Linked DNA regions of Homo sapiens. The protein of the gene in region 2 interacts with the protein of the main gene of each other region in a pairwise test. Each region holds a gene or a part of one and is shown on either strand. Other genes may lie near its edges.

Evidence for each region. Proteins that work in one complex are often made in the same cells at the same time.
Region 1: the proteins of DNAJB13 (region 2) and LHX4 interact in binary tests that used the Homo sapiens proteins (3 or more experiments, as listed by UniProt).
Region 3: the proteins of DNAJB13 (region 2) and MSS51 interact in binary tests that used the Homo sapiens proteins (3 or more experiments, as listed by UniProt).
Region 4: the proteins of DNAJB13 (region 2) and PIBF1 interact in a two-hybrid assay, tested with the Homo sapiens proteins (one large-scale study listed by BioGRID).

What each region holds. Positions count from the first base shown.
Region 1 is NC_000001.11:180,264,764-180,268,263, reverse strand, and holds part of LHX4 (LIM/homeobox protein Lhx4), read right to left. Parts: intron 2,062-3,500; exon of another isoform or gene 2,034-2,061; coding exon of another isoform or gene 2,011-2,033; intron 1,873-2,010; coding exon 1,670-1,872; intron 1-1,669. UniProt on the Homo sapiens protein: May play a critical role in the development of respiratory control mechanisms and in the normal growth and maturation of the lung. Binds preferentially to methylated DNA.
Region 2 is NC_000011.10:73,954,026-73,957,525, forward strand, and holds part of DNAJB13 (dnaJ homolog subfamily B member 13), read left to right. Parts: intron 1-1,887; exon of another isoform or gene 1,888-2,007; coding exon of another isoform or gene 2,008-2,177; intron 2,178-3,500. UniProt on the Homo sapiens protein: Functions as part of axonemal radial spoke complexes that play an important part in the motility of sperm and cilia.
Region 3 is NC_000010.11:73,430,762-73,434,713, forward strand, and holds the start of MSS51 (putative protein MSS51 homolog, mitochondrial), read right to left. Parts: upstream 2,801-3,952; 5' UTR 2,752-2,800; exon of another isoform or gene 1-2,751.
Region 4 is NC_000013.11:72,795,633-72,799,132, reverse strand, and holds part of PIBF1 (progesterone-induced-blocking factor 1), read right to left. Parts: intron 1,227-3,500; coding exon 1,107-1,226; intron 1-1,106.

The DNA of each region.
Region 1 (3,500 bases), on a different chromosome or scaffold from region 2:
GAGGTCGTGCCATCTTAGTATCTCTGATGAACGGCACTAGACTTCCAAAGGTGTCTTGGTATCTCTGAGTCCATCTGCTGTGATGGTTCATCCCTGACAAGTTGCCCTAATCTCCCATGACATCACAATTGACTTCAAGGCAATAGCATGGAGTGAGTTTTAAGAAACCAGAGCAGATTAGTACATTGCAGGCAAAGAGCCTTGGGATGGGTTTGCAGAGGCCCCAGGTCTCTGGAGGAAGGAGGTCAAAGGCCTCTGTCCACCCTGAAAGGCCAGAGCTGTGGGGGTGGTGGGAGGGAAGGTCCTCAAAGAGACAGGAAGCCCTGCCCACTCCTGCCATGGACCAAAGCCAAACCCAGCTCCAGCTGGCTCACCTAAAGGGCCCTTATGAATCCCCTCTGCTTCCTCACCACCACAATCCCCTTATTTTATACTGTGTTCAATGAACAAAAAACCAGTTTCTCCATTATTGATGAGATCTGTATAATATGTGTGTGGGCCCAGAAAAGATCTAGAAGGAGATACATAAAATTGTTGTTAATTTTTTTTCTCATCAAGCCCAGAGCTGTCAACAAGAGCCGTTTTTGCACAGTAACACCCTGAGTTGATCAAAATTCTAGTCAAAGGCCAAGGAACTTGATGTTTTGTGCGTTCACACCTCTGAGGTTATCATGTTGGGTTTGGCCAAATCCCAAATTCAGAGCCAGGGCCTGACCCCACGACCATGTGGGTGCATCTGGGAGTGAGAAGCCAGAGGTAGGGCTGCAGGAATAAAAGTGTCCACCTTGGCTTTGCGAGGGGAGCATGGGGAATGTGTTGTTCTGGGCTCTACGCTGGAAAGTCCCCGGGCTGCCCAAGCGCATGGCATGTAGGGCGAGAGCCGCTGCCGCCAGGCCAAGCTAGGCCTTTCCAGGCGTGGCTGCTAAATGCGGGACCTGACTTCGGCCTCCACCATGCAGAGCTCCTGCTGCCACCGTGGGCAGTGGCCCTGCAGTGGTTGTGGTGAAGGGGGTGGGGGCAGCTATATTGAAGTGGGTGGAGGGAGCTATATTGCTGAGACGGAGCCTCCCTGAATCTGGCATGTGTCCTGCCTCTTCTTTTAGCACTCACTGGGCACTTGCAGAAACTCCAGGAGGCCCTGCCCTAGAGGAGCCCACAGTCTGCGAGGCGAACAGAACACAATTAACAGACAGATGTATGAAGTGTGCAGAGGCCAGTGCTGGGCTCTCACCGACGGCCTTTGAGGCAGGGGCTGCTGAGAGGTCCATGTGCACCCTGATGTGCAAAACTAAGCGGCAGCCCCACGTGTCCAATACAGACCAAGCTCCCAGCCACCCCTCAGCACCCCAGCCTCCACCCAGGGAAGGAGGCCACCACCATGGTAACAACCAGGTTCTTGGCTGCTTCTGAGCCTACCATGGAGACAGGCAGGCTCTCAGGAACCATGGCTGGATGAACACTTCCATGAAGCCGGCGAGTGCTAACGGCCGGGGAGGTGTTCAGCATTTACTCTCAGTGTGGAGATCTGGGACGCTTCTCAGAGGTGGCGGTGCATGAGTAGGGCTCTGAGGGATGGGCAGGTGGGACGCCATGAGAAGGGCACCTCAGGCAGAGGGCGTGGCCCAAACAAAGGCCTGGAGAGGGGACCATGCGGGGCCATGCTGCTTACCGTTCTGCTTGGCTGTCTCGTAGTCTTCCTTGCACACCAGCCGCCCGTCCTCCATGAGGTAGAATTCGTCCCCCGTGGCCAGCTGCCGGTTGCAGATGATGCAAGCAAAGCAGTGCAGGTGGTAGACAAAGTCCTGGGCCTTGCGGACCACCTGGGTTGGGGGGATACCCTGCTGGCAGGCCGTGCATTTTGTGCCGAAGCGCCTGTCAGGGCAGCAGGAAAGGATTAGGGCACACAGGGAGCAAGGGATCTGGCTTCCCCCAACTTCCTGGAGCAGCCTCCCTCCTACCCCACCACTCCGGGACTCCATGAGCCTCACCCCCCAGTCACCCAGAGCTTACCGTCTGGTCCTCTCTGCCTCCATCTAGCTTCATTGCTTTGTGCCTGGGACTCTTCAACCACCAAAGAAGGGACTGATGAGAACTAGAGTCTCCCTCAGGTACCTTTTCCAAAGCTGATGCCCCCGGATTCCAGCTGCCCGATTAACACCCATCAATTCACAGGGGGAGCAGGTGGACTTTCTAAGTCCCTCAAAGCAGGCTGTCTCCCCCTCCACCTCCCAGCTTCCTCACCCTTATGGTTGATCCCAGAGGACATCCTCACAGGGAACTGTGTGTGCCACAGGCTGTGTGTAGAAAGCACCCAGCAACACCTTTTCACACACTCCCAGGGAGGAGGCCCTGCCTGGCCAGGGGACAGCACGCTGCAGAGAAAATGCACTTTGTCAGCAGAGCAAGGCTGTCCTGACAGCTGTTCTCTCTCCTTTGCCTCCATTTCTCCCCTCACCTCCATTCTGCACACACAAAGCCCTCCAAGCCTACCTCCATCCCCTTCCTATGCACGCACACAGCCTGGGGCATGGTGGTTTGGGAAGGGCCCAGGAAGCTGCACTTTTCAGCCCCTACAGCATTCGGGACAAGGAGTCTGCAGATTACAGTTTGGAAAATGCTGCTTCAGACCTCTCCTTGGTCAGCACCTTTCCAGAACAACACCGAGGCAAAAGGAAGCTACCTGCTGCCACCAAGGCAGCTTCTACCAAGCAAGCCACCCCCTGCCAAGGCCGGGAAGGAAGGAGAAATTGACACTTAAAAGTATCGTCCAGTGGGGTTGTTTCCACTCCCTTTCCCCATTCTGGTCATAGAGATCAACAGAGGCACACCGATGGTCATAGGAGACGAGGGAAATTTGGGGGCCGACAGGGACAGTGAAGGAGGGTGCGTGGCTGCAGGTGAGCCTTCCCCGCTTCAGGAGGGAGGCGGGAGGCATTGGGAAAGCAAGGGCAGAGTTTAAAACAGCAATCAACCTAATTATTCATGACATTTCACACAGCAGAACTTTATCTTCTTCAGGATGAAAGACTTCGCCTAATGGATCTGGGGAAGGTTTGATTTTAATGGTCCTTTTAACTAATGCTTATAGGCAGCCTGATTTCCCCTGAAAGGACAGTACATATTTCATCCACATTAATACCAAATAAATTAATTATGGTCATGGCTATCATGATGAATACCAGATTAATGCAGAATGATAGGTCTGTTATGCAGTAATGATACCTGCTGAGGGGGTTATGGGGGCCCGGAATAGGCATGGCCAGCAGCAGCCTCAGACGCCCCCCACCAGGGACACAGCATCCCAGAGAAAAGTGGGGGTTCTCTAAGTCTGCATGGGTAATCCTGAAAGACCCAGAGTGTACTTCAGGGAACACTCTTCTGAGATGGGTATAAGAAGGGTGTTGGGGTGTGAGGGGCTGAGAGGTGGTGGCTTGGGAGGACCCCAGGCTTCTGAATTCCTGGAATGCCTCTTGGTTTTCAGAGAGATGGGGCCCATTTAG
Region 2 (3,500 bases):
ATAATAATAATAATAATGGCTGGACACAGTGGCTCACACCTGTAATCCTAGCACTTTGGGAGGCTGAGGCAGGTGGACCACTTGAGGTCAGGAGTTTGAGACCAGCCTGGCCAACTTGGTGAAACCACTTCTCTATTAAAAATACAAAAAATTAGCCAGGTGTAGTGGCGCATGCCTGTAATCCCAGCTACTGGGGAGGCTGAGACAGGAGAATTGCTTGAACCCAGGAGGCAGAGGTTGCAGTGAGCCGAGATCGTGCCATTGCACTCCAGCCTGGGTGACAGAGTGAGACTTCGTCTCAAAAAAATAAATAAAAAAAAGTAGGCCGGGCGCAGTGGCTCACACCTGTAATCCCAGCACTTTGGGAGGCTGAGGCGGGCGGATCACGAGTTCAGGAGATCAAGACCATCCTGGATAACATGGTGAAACCCCGTCTCTACTAAAAATACAAAAAAATAGCCGGGCGTGGTAGCAGGTGCCTGTAGTCCCAGCTACTCGGGAGGGTGAGGCAGGAGAATGGCGTGAACCTGGGAGGCGGAATTTGCAGTGAGCCGAGATCGCGCCACTGCACTCCAGCCTGGGCAACAGAGTGAGACTCCGTCTCAAAAAAAAAAAATAAAATAAATAAATAAATAAATAAATAAATAAGGCTGGGCACGGTGGCTCATGCCTGTAATCCCAGCACTTTGGGAGGACGAGGCAGGAGGATCTCCTGAGGTCGGAAGTTCAAGACCAGCCTGGCCAACAAGGTAAAACCCTGTCTCTACTAAAAAAAATTAGCCAGGCGTGGTGACGGGTACCTGTAATCCCAGCTACGCGGGAGGCTGAGGCAGAAGAATCGTTTGAACCTGGGAGGTGGAGGTTGCAGTGAACCAAGATTGAGTCATTGTACTCCAGCCTGAGCAACAAGAGCAAAACTCCATTTCAAAAATAAATAATAAATAAAAATAAATAGAGTGATTAAAAGAACTATGTAGGTTTCAAAAAGCAGTCCTTAACCCTTCTCCCCTGCAATAACTCTAAGTCACATGTATGACATGCTTGCTCATGGGATCACCTAGATATTGATCAAAAAAAAAAAGAGCTAAACTTATATAAGGAAGAAAAACATCATGATAGTTTATAATTGCCCAGGATTCATAATTGCAGCGTTCAAGCTGTGATTTCACCCCTTTCTCTCCCACTCAGGAAAGCAGGTGAATGAGAGTGATGTTATTGCAGGGATAATTTTGAAACCACTCAAATTTATATGAAAAACTAAACCTTTCTCAAACCTTGTTACTTTTTTTTTTTTTTTTTTTGAAACGGAGTCTCTCTCTGCCACCCAGGCTGGAGTGCAGTGGCAGGATCTCTGCTCACTGCAACCTCCACCTTCTAGGTTCAAGTGATTCTTCTGCCTCAGCCCCCTGAGTAGCTGGGACTACAGGTGTGTGCCACTGTGCCCGGCTAATTTTTTTATTTTTAGTAGAGACGGGGTTTCACCATGTTGGCCAGCCTGGTCTCGAACTCCTGATCTCAAGTGATCTGCCTGCCTCGGCCTCCCAAATTGCTGGGATTACAGGAGACTGAGATGGGCAGATCACTTGAGGCCAGGAGTTTGAGACCAGCATGGCCAACACGGCAAAAACCCGTCTCTACTAAAAATACAAAAATTAGCCAGGTGTGGTGGTGGGCACCTGTAGTTCCAGCTACTTGAACCTGGGAGGCGGACAATGCAGTGAGCCCAGATCGCGCCACTGCACTCCAGCCTAGGTGACAGAGTGAGACTCTATCTCTAAATAAATAAATAAAAATAACTGACTGTGACCTTTATAATTGAGAAAGGCTGGTTTGGAAGGCTGTGACAATTGTCTTCAAGTCTCTGAAGGTAGATATTCTCTCTGTAAGGTCCCCAGGGCACAGCCAGGACCCTTATGGATGGAGGGGCAGTTGCAGGACCACAGATCCAGCTTCCTGTCCGCAGTAAGAGGAGGCATTGCCTAAAAGTCAGAGCCATGCCACAGTGAGATGGACTGTCCTGCAGGATGCTTAGCATGTATCATTTATTTACTCACTCCTGCTCAGTGCCCAGCACTGGGGCTAGAACTGGATGCAGCAACTCCAGGACCTCCCAGTCTATTAGACAGAGGAGTCAATATACACCTGGAACACAGCACTGCTGAGGACAAGGATCAAAGGTGCTGGGGACTTGGGAAGGGGAGTCTAACCTAGAAAGGAGGCTAACAATCAGGGAAGGTGCCCTGGAGGATTTGGCACCTGAGTCGAAAGTTGAAGGATGAATTAAAAATTGCCCAGAGAAGCTGGGAGGAGCTGCAGAGGGGTGAGTCATGCAGGAGAGGTCAAGGGAGCAGCAAGAGAGAACAGTGAGTGAGGCCAGAGGGAGAAGCAGGGGCTTGGATCTTAGAATGAGACATCCGAGTTTTATGCTGGAGACAATGGGGAAACCAGTGAAGGGTTATGCCAGGAGAGGGACCTGGTCAGAAAGTATTTCAGAAGGCTGGGCGCTGTGGCTCATGCCTGTAATCCTAGCATTTTGGGAGGCTGTGGTGGGCGGATCACCTGAGGTCAGTAGTTCAAGACCAGCCTGGCCAACATGGTGAAACCCTGCCTCTACTAAAAATACAAAAATTAGCCAGGCGTGGTGGCTCGCGCCTGTAATCCCAGCTACTTGGGAGGCTGAGGCAGGAGAATCGCTTGAACCCAGGAAGCAGAGGTTGTAGTGAGTAGAGATTGTGCCATTGCACTCCAGCTTGGGCAACAAGAGAGAAACTCCATCTCAAAAAAAAAAAAAAAAAAAAGTATATGTCTGGGCTCAGTGAATTTATGATACCTTGGAGAGGAGATGGCAAGTAGGCACTTGGAGGTAGTCTTTGGCTCAGGGAAGTGGTCTGGTTCGGGATGGAGATTTAGCTGTGAGAGACAGAAGCCTGCCTCTGGAATAAGAAGAGAAGCTGTGGAACTCTGGGGATGGCGGCGAGGCGGGTGTGGGCACTAGAAAAGCGGGTGGAGGCAAGGTGGGGGGTCACGCCTGGGCTGAATGACAGGCGTCTGTGCTGGATGCTTCCCGTGCAGCCCTCCAGACCCACTCCCCACCCTTCCTGCCCTGCTGCGCTCCGGGAGGCTTCCTTGCCCTCAGCCTTCCACATGGAGCCGGCCCAGGGGAGCATCAGGCGGGGAGATGGGGAGGGAGAAGGGCAGGGCTGCGGCTTTATTCCCCAGTTCTCCTCCTATGGGGTCTCTTCAGTCAGCTGTGTCGCTTGACAGAAGGTCACAGCTCCGCTGAGGGCCCTGTCCACACACTCCAACAGACCCCTCGGGGTTCCTGGCCTGGGAAAACTGCACTCCGCTGTCCCTGGCAGTCTCCCTCCGCTCCTCCAGCACCTGGGCGAATGGTCCCTTTATTAAGCTCTCCACAAACCACCCAATCCGCTCCATCTCTCCCCCACCCCGGGTCACTGCCGATACATATTCTCAGACGCTGCGATGTCTGCCCTTCAGAA
Region 3 (3,952 bases), on a different chromosome or scaffold from region 2:
CTTAGGTATGTGCCCAAAATATTTAAAAACAGATACTCAAACAAATACTTATATGTGAATGTTCATAGCAGCACTATTCGCAACAGCTAAAAGGTAGAAACAACCCAAAGGTCCATCAATGGATAAATGGATAAACAAATTGGGATATAAATATACATATGAAGATGTATATTATTCAGCTATAAAAAGAAATGAAATACTGATACACGCTACAATGTAGAGGAACTTCAAAAAACATTATACTAAGTGAAGAAAGCCAGACACAAAATGTTGTATACATGTTGTATGATGCCATTTCTATGAAATATCCAGAATAGGTAAACCCAGAGACAGAAAGCAGATTGGTAGTTGCTAAGGGCTGGGTGGAAGGGAAAATGGGGAGTAACTGCTTAATGGTTATGGGGTCTTCTTTTGGGGTGATAAAAATGTTTTGGAACAAGACAAAATTGATGGTTGAACAATACCGTGAATACACTAAATGCCATTTAATTGCTCACTTTAAAATTATTAATTTTATGTTATATGATTTTCACTTCGATTAAAAAAGAAAGGAAGGAAGGTATTCATAGAGATTGAGAGGCTAAAAAGTTATTAATCCCCAGATTGTCTTCAGGTACAGAGAAATAACAGAGGATTAAAAACGCTGGCAGTGTGAATGAGGAAACTGTTAAAGTTCAAACCAGGGATCATGTTTTGTTACAAAAATGATCTGACATTTGATCCTTCTAGATCAGATCTGTTAGGAAAAACCTCAGAATCATCATGCAGCTGAGGTGTATGCAGGTGGCAAAAATAAACAAAAAGCTCCCAGAATTATCCAGCTCATATCCATATCTTACAACATGACTCTTAAAAACCTGTCCTCAGGTTAATGGAGGAACAAATTTGTATTTTCCTTTGTACTTTCTATCTCCTCATCCTTATGTTTCCATCCACCCTCTTAATGTCTCCCCTTATCCCATGGGTGAATGGATGGTTTCAGTCCACAGAACAGAAATAGTCAAGCTCATCTGTATACCATATCCTATATATTACCTTCAATGAAGAAATTGGACCTAATGATATTAGATTATCTTAGGGTTTAAGGGTCATGTCCTTTTACCAAAAGAGTAAATGGAATTGCCCTTCACACTTTAGGGCCCAATTTCCAACAACTAACCTCATTCTGTCCTCCACTTTTAATCACCTCACATTCTCATTGCATTTTCAGAATCACTGCCATTCTACAAAAAGCATTTATCTACTCTACCCACCTGCCTCAGGCAAGATAACATTTTCTTTTTCTTTCTTTCTTTGAGACAGAGTCTCACTCTGTCACCCAGGCTGGAGTGCAGTGGTGCGATCTTGGCTCACTGCAACCTCCACCTCCCGGGTTCAAGTGATTCTCCTGCCTCAGCCTCCTGAGTAGCTGGGATTACAGGCTCGCGCCACCATGCCCAGCTAATTTTTGTATTTTTAGTAGAGATGGGGTTTCACCATGTTGGTCAGGCTGGTCTCGAACTCCTGACCTCGTGATCCACCCACCTCGACCTCCCAAAGTGCTGGGATTACAGGCATGAGCCACGGCGCCCGGCCAAGACACCACTTTCTTAAACCTTGAAAGAATGACTTTTTTTTTTTTAAATAGGTATGGAAGGAAAGTGTGATTTGAGACAACTCTAGGGTCTTAAATCCCAGAATTTATAATAGATATCTCCCTGAAGTTAAAACATAAGCCTTTTTGCTGCAATGGAAGCAAGCCACTTAAGGTCAGAAAGGTACTGCTTTACTTTTCCGCATTTCCAAGGTGAGGTCTTCCTCTAAAGGAAGATTAGCTCTTGGCAATCTGGGAGTTGGCTGAACTGGTCAGAAAGCAAAAGGATCACACAGTTTGAGGAAGAGGAGTGGTGGTAAAAATCCCTAATGTCACAGTCTCCTCTGTGTCTAGAGCACAATGTTCATGATACAAATGAGTTAGCTTTCTGGCAGAAAAGAAAGAAGGTGGGTGAGAAGCCAGGTCTTTGATCTGCATCTATATACATCATCAGGTTCATGTTTGAGTTTATATACCCCAGGCCCAGACACAGCTTCCCTGGTTCTAAATCTCCTGTAAAGAGCCCCAGGCTACTCCCTGTTCACAGGTTATAAACTGAGAGAAACAAAGGAAAAAACAGGGGACTCACAGGAGAAGCTGGAAAGAATTGCAGTAAGCTCTTTGAACTTTCCAGAGTCTAGAATGCTCTCCACTTAGAAAGGGAATCCCTTTCATTTTTTTCTAGCCATCCCCAGTGACTTAGGCTCTAATTTAGTCCCAGTATAAGAGAGAGAACACCAACACCAAGAACTGGAGAGGAGACATGATCTTGATTGCCTAGAAAAACTTTTATCCTTCATGTCCAAATTCAAGACAAAATATTAATCTATTCCTAGACCTAGGTTTCCCATCTTCTTCTTTACCACCAAGAGTCCCAAGTTTCACCTAAACTACAGTCATATTTTCACTATCTCCAGATAAGGAGTGCTCATCTAATTTTCTGTAAGTCACCAAAAAATGCAAAACGTCTTTGGAGAGGTAGGGAGAAGGAAGACTGAAACTGGTCATTGGAGATCCTTATAAGGGGGTAGGAAAAGAGAAGGAGAAATACATTAAGGACACTGTAATTATGGCCACATTCAGCTGTTTAATCAGTGATTAACACTGCCTGGGGTGATAAATACTTTACTCAATTATAAACTAAGCAAGCAGACAGGTTGACGGAAAAAAAAACTTACCCTGCTAAGTCCTCAGCTTCCTTCCTTCTCTCTTTCCTCCAAGTGAAATGAGTGCTTGATCTCTTCAGATCTAGGTTGTGGCTTACTTGCAGCTGTCCCTTCATATCACTTTCCTTTGCAAACTGCTGAAATGCTGAGTCTCAGTGATTAAGTGTGCCCTGCCAACCAGACAGACAAGGCTGAATTCTCCCTAATGAGGCAAAGAGGGATCTGTCCCCCTGCCTGAGGGCTTCTCTCTAACCTTTGTTCTCTGCCAAGGGGGCTCAGGACTGTCAACACTCCCAAGTGTTAGCCAAGTAAAGGCCAGGCAGGCTGACAAAAAATGAAACCTGCTGCTTCCTAGACTTCTCTCACTCAAGGCAATATTTCTGTTCTCAGTTTACAGCTTCAGAAGAAAACCCTTTGGATTAGTGCAGAAGTCAATATTTGATTGGAAAGGGTAAGCACCTTTCCAACCAAGTGGGAGGAACCAGAGGACCCTCTGGAGTTCTGTTTGTTGATCTAGACACAGGATGAGTTCCCCCAGGCCTGGTGTCCTTTTTCAGCATAACAAACATTGTTCAAACAAAACTCAACAATGTCCAATCTTGGATTAAGTAGAAGGGAGAAAATAAATGGCCATTTAATGGTACAGAATGAAATCAGTTGTAGGGGAAACATGCAGAATTAACTTGTAAAATTCACTTTCCCTGAAAGAAGGGTAAGATAACTCTCTGAGTGAGAGAGTCATCAGGAGCACTTTACCTGTATTAAGAGAGGAATAAATGCTTCTGGGATATTAAACAAAACCAAAATACTAGTTAATGACTAAAAATACATACTATTTCTAGGAAAAGAAAATAGAAAAGAATCAGCTCAACCATTCTCTTATCCTCCTTGTAATTGCAGCTGATCCAGGAAATTCAATTCCACAGTCCTAGCTTCTTTCTACTTACAGCTAGCCTATCTGAAGTTGTTAGGGCAGTGGTCCTAAAAGACTGCAAGATCTTTCTTACCCTCAAAAAATTTTTTTAAAATTTTTAAATAAAAAAGTTCTGACTTTCTGCTTATATCTGACCCCAGCTCTCACTTACCTGCTTCTTTGAACATCATCAAACTGGGGAACAGAATCACTCGCAATGAGGTCCCGGAATGTGGCAAATCAAATCCACACAGGAACCCCAAACTGTAAAAAGTACAAACTACATGCAGGGAAGGTGGA
Region 4 (3,500 bases), on a different chromosome or scaffold from region 2:
CATTAAATGACCTGGTCATGGTCACACAGTAAATGAGAGTGTCAAAATATCACCTAACGTTCTAATCCTAACCTGCTAGAAAGTAAACTCTAGAAGGGCAGGCATTGCCTCTCTTGGGTTCACTGCCAGCACCTAGCACAGCACCATGCACACCACTGGGGTTAATGCTAGTATCAGTACACATGCTCAGAATAAATATTATGAGAGTTAACTGCACTTCACAAAGAAGCCACGTAAGTAATAAATGGACAGTAGCTCCATCTCATATCACGAACAAGGCTAACTTGTAATGAAGAACTGCAGCAGCCCCCATTTGTAAACTAGAAGTGTTTTCCTTTTAGAATAACGAAATATTTGAAGAAAAACAGCCACCCATTTCCAACTGTTACATGGTAGAATGAATCAATCTACCATTATTTTTTTGTTAGTAGACTATAACTACAAGATAGTATTCTAGGATATCTGGTCAATAATACAACCAAGTTAATGATTAGTCCACCCTTCTATATAAATGTTGATTTATGATTACTATATTCATCGTCTAGGCTGAGATAATTTTGAAAATAAAGGGGTGCTATTAATATTTATTCACAGGAATAATGGCAACAGTCTTAGGCAAACCAGAACCTACGAGTCAACTTAGTTCAAAGTAAAAATATTCTCCTTTTCTTCTTTCTTATGGCACCTGCAAGAGATCCCCTGCATAGCTTGGCCTACATTTCTTGTTTCTTGCTTAAATTTCCTGACAAAGTGATGTTAAAAATAGAGACAAATTACTAAATAAATACATGCATATGCGTCATCTAAGGATACACAGCAATTTTCAGATATAGCCCATATTAGGATTTCAAAAGCAGTTGATTATAAAATTGACTTGCAACAATAAAAGCTCAACTATAGGATACGTCAATAACACAGACTTGTCTTGTCAATGTTTAAGATGACTACTTCCAATTTAACCTCCTTCCCATTATTGAACTGTAGCAGTCACCATCCCATAGTCCCATTTTTCAATCACTGACTTTTATATGCCTTATCACAAATCCTGAGGGACTCTACAGAAAAAGCCGAAGCTTCTTCCCACCAGCAATCAAAACCATACAAACCTCTGTCAGCTGCTTCAGTTGGTTTTTGTTTGTACTTAATTCTTCTGCTAGGATATTCTTTTTCACTTGTAGTTCACAGATTTCCTTTCTTAATGGATTCACTAGCTCATAGAAGCGAACCTTGAAAAAAATTAAATTAATAAGCAGTCTTAAATCCAAATTACAATTAAAATTTGTAATTTGTAGTGCTCTCACTTATCAGTAATAAAGATAAATATTTACAAAACTACAACAAGACAGTCATTAATGGACCCTAGCCACTAATACTTTCTATCAAGCCTTAATGTTCAATTAACTTCCCTCAAGGGCCAGATGATTTATAACCTCTTACCTTTGACAGTATTTCCTCCCTTCTACTGACACTCCATTACTACTCATCTACTACTGCTCACTCCACACTAGGTGCTTGTAAACTTCTGGAACATATCACAAATGTTCAGGAGTCTTGCTCTTGCTGTTTCTTCTGCTAGAGAAGTTCTTCCCCCATATAAATGCATGGCTCATGCCTTGTCTCCCTATAGGTCTCTGACCAAATATTACCTTGTTAGTAAAGCCCTCCCTGATTTCTTTACCTAATTTTAAGTAGCACTCCCTATTTTTCACCCCTGCTCTTTTCTCTGTAGCACCTTTGACAAACAGATATTCTACATATTTAATTTTTAAGTTATTGCCTGTGTTGCTCCACTTTCACAACCTGAGGGCAGGGATTTTTGTCTGGTTTATACACCGCTGTATTTCCAATGCCTAAATATATGATAAGCACTCAATAAATACTTGATGAAGAGGTAAAGTGTATTCTTTATTTTCATCCCAGGCTCTTGGCAAAGCTTTATTTACTGCTGTCCCTACAGTGGAAGTCTAATCAGAATGAATCAAGAGGTATCTTTCACATCATTACTTCCATTTAGTTCAGGTCTCTCTTTCCACTCATACTTGTCTCAGAGAAATTTTCCTACCCTAGCTCAGTAAAGTGTTCCATCTGACAAGGTCCCATAAAACTAAGAAATCATCACAGCAAATTAGGAGAGAGTAATTAGGGGCTATCATATAGGCATGCAATCTGAAACTCCTTAACATATGACGGTATTACAAGAATACCATTATTTGGTAAGAGGCAAATCTTAATACTAGCCCTCAACAAAAAGAATCTGCATATAATTAATTAGTTAAGGATAATATTGTCTGTGAAAACAAAAGATGTAAGAAGGAATATTAAGAAAACAAACAGCAAAAATATGTGTAACTGCCACCAGTGTGATACTTTATATCTACTGTAAATGAAGCCTCAAAAACAGAATTTGAGATATTTAATTTGTTTTGGACAGTATACTTTGGACAGAAAAGCTGTATTTGAGCCTTTTAAAAAAAAAAAAAAAACAGCTGAACAAAAAAGTAACTTCATTTTATCAGACATCACTAATCTGCAAATCTTTTCCCAATGAGAACCAAGAATAGCAACCACCACTCCAGCAAAAACAATAGACAACATTTTTATGTGTTTACTATCTTCTAAGCACTATGCTCACAAGCATTTTACATACATAGTTATAGTCTTTACAATTATCCCCAATAGAAACGCACCGTTACTATTAACCCTTTTTAGGGATTAAAAAATTCAAGCCTCTCAGGGTAAAATGACATCTACATATTAAAAAGCAGCAGTTCTCAACATATGGTTTTGGGACTCCTGGACTCTGCCCCACTCGCCACTCTGAGATCCTTTCAGGGAATTCACAAGATCAAAACGACTTTCCTAGTAATTATTAAGATTTTTTTTCCCCGTTTCATTCTCATTCTCTCATGACTGTTCAGTGGAGTTTGCCAGTGGCTACATGACATATGACATTATCACTCTTAAGGCCAATGGAATTGTGTGCTTATTCTTGTGTTTAAAAAAGTTGTTAGTTTAAAATTCTAGTATGGTAAATATTAATAGATACAGCCCATATAAACAAACACTCATTGGGGTCCTCAATAACTTTTAGAATGTAAATGAATGCTGACACCAAAATATTTGAGACCACTGCCATAGATTAATCCTAGGTGTTCTAGATTTGTGTAACCAGCACTGCAATCAAGATCTTGCGCCAATCTCTCACCACAAAGTTCTTTCTCATCCTATCCCTTTATAACCACGCTGACTCCTCTCTCCCACTATCCCCAACCAACCCCTGGCAACAACTACTCTGTTGTTTATAATTTTTCATTTTGAGAATGTAAGAAACCACCAGTTTACGATAATTCATTTCTATGGACTATGCAGTCATTAACTTCAGAAACCTATTTATTGCTTGACTTTGGAGATCAATGGTCATGATCCTTTAAAATTTGGATCTCAACACCATTCACCATCCATAGCCATAAAATAATGTATCAATTGGGTACTTCAAAAGT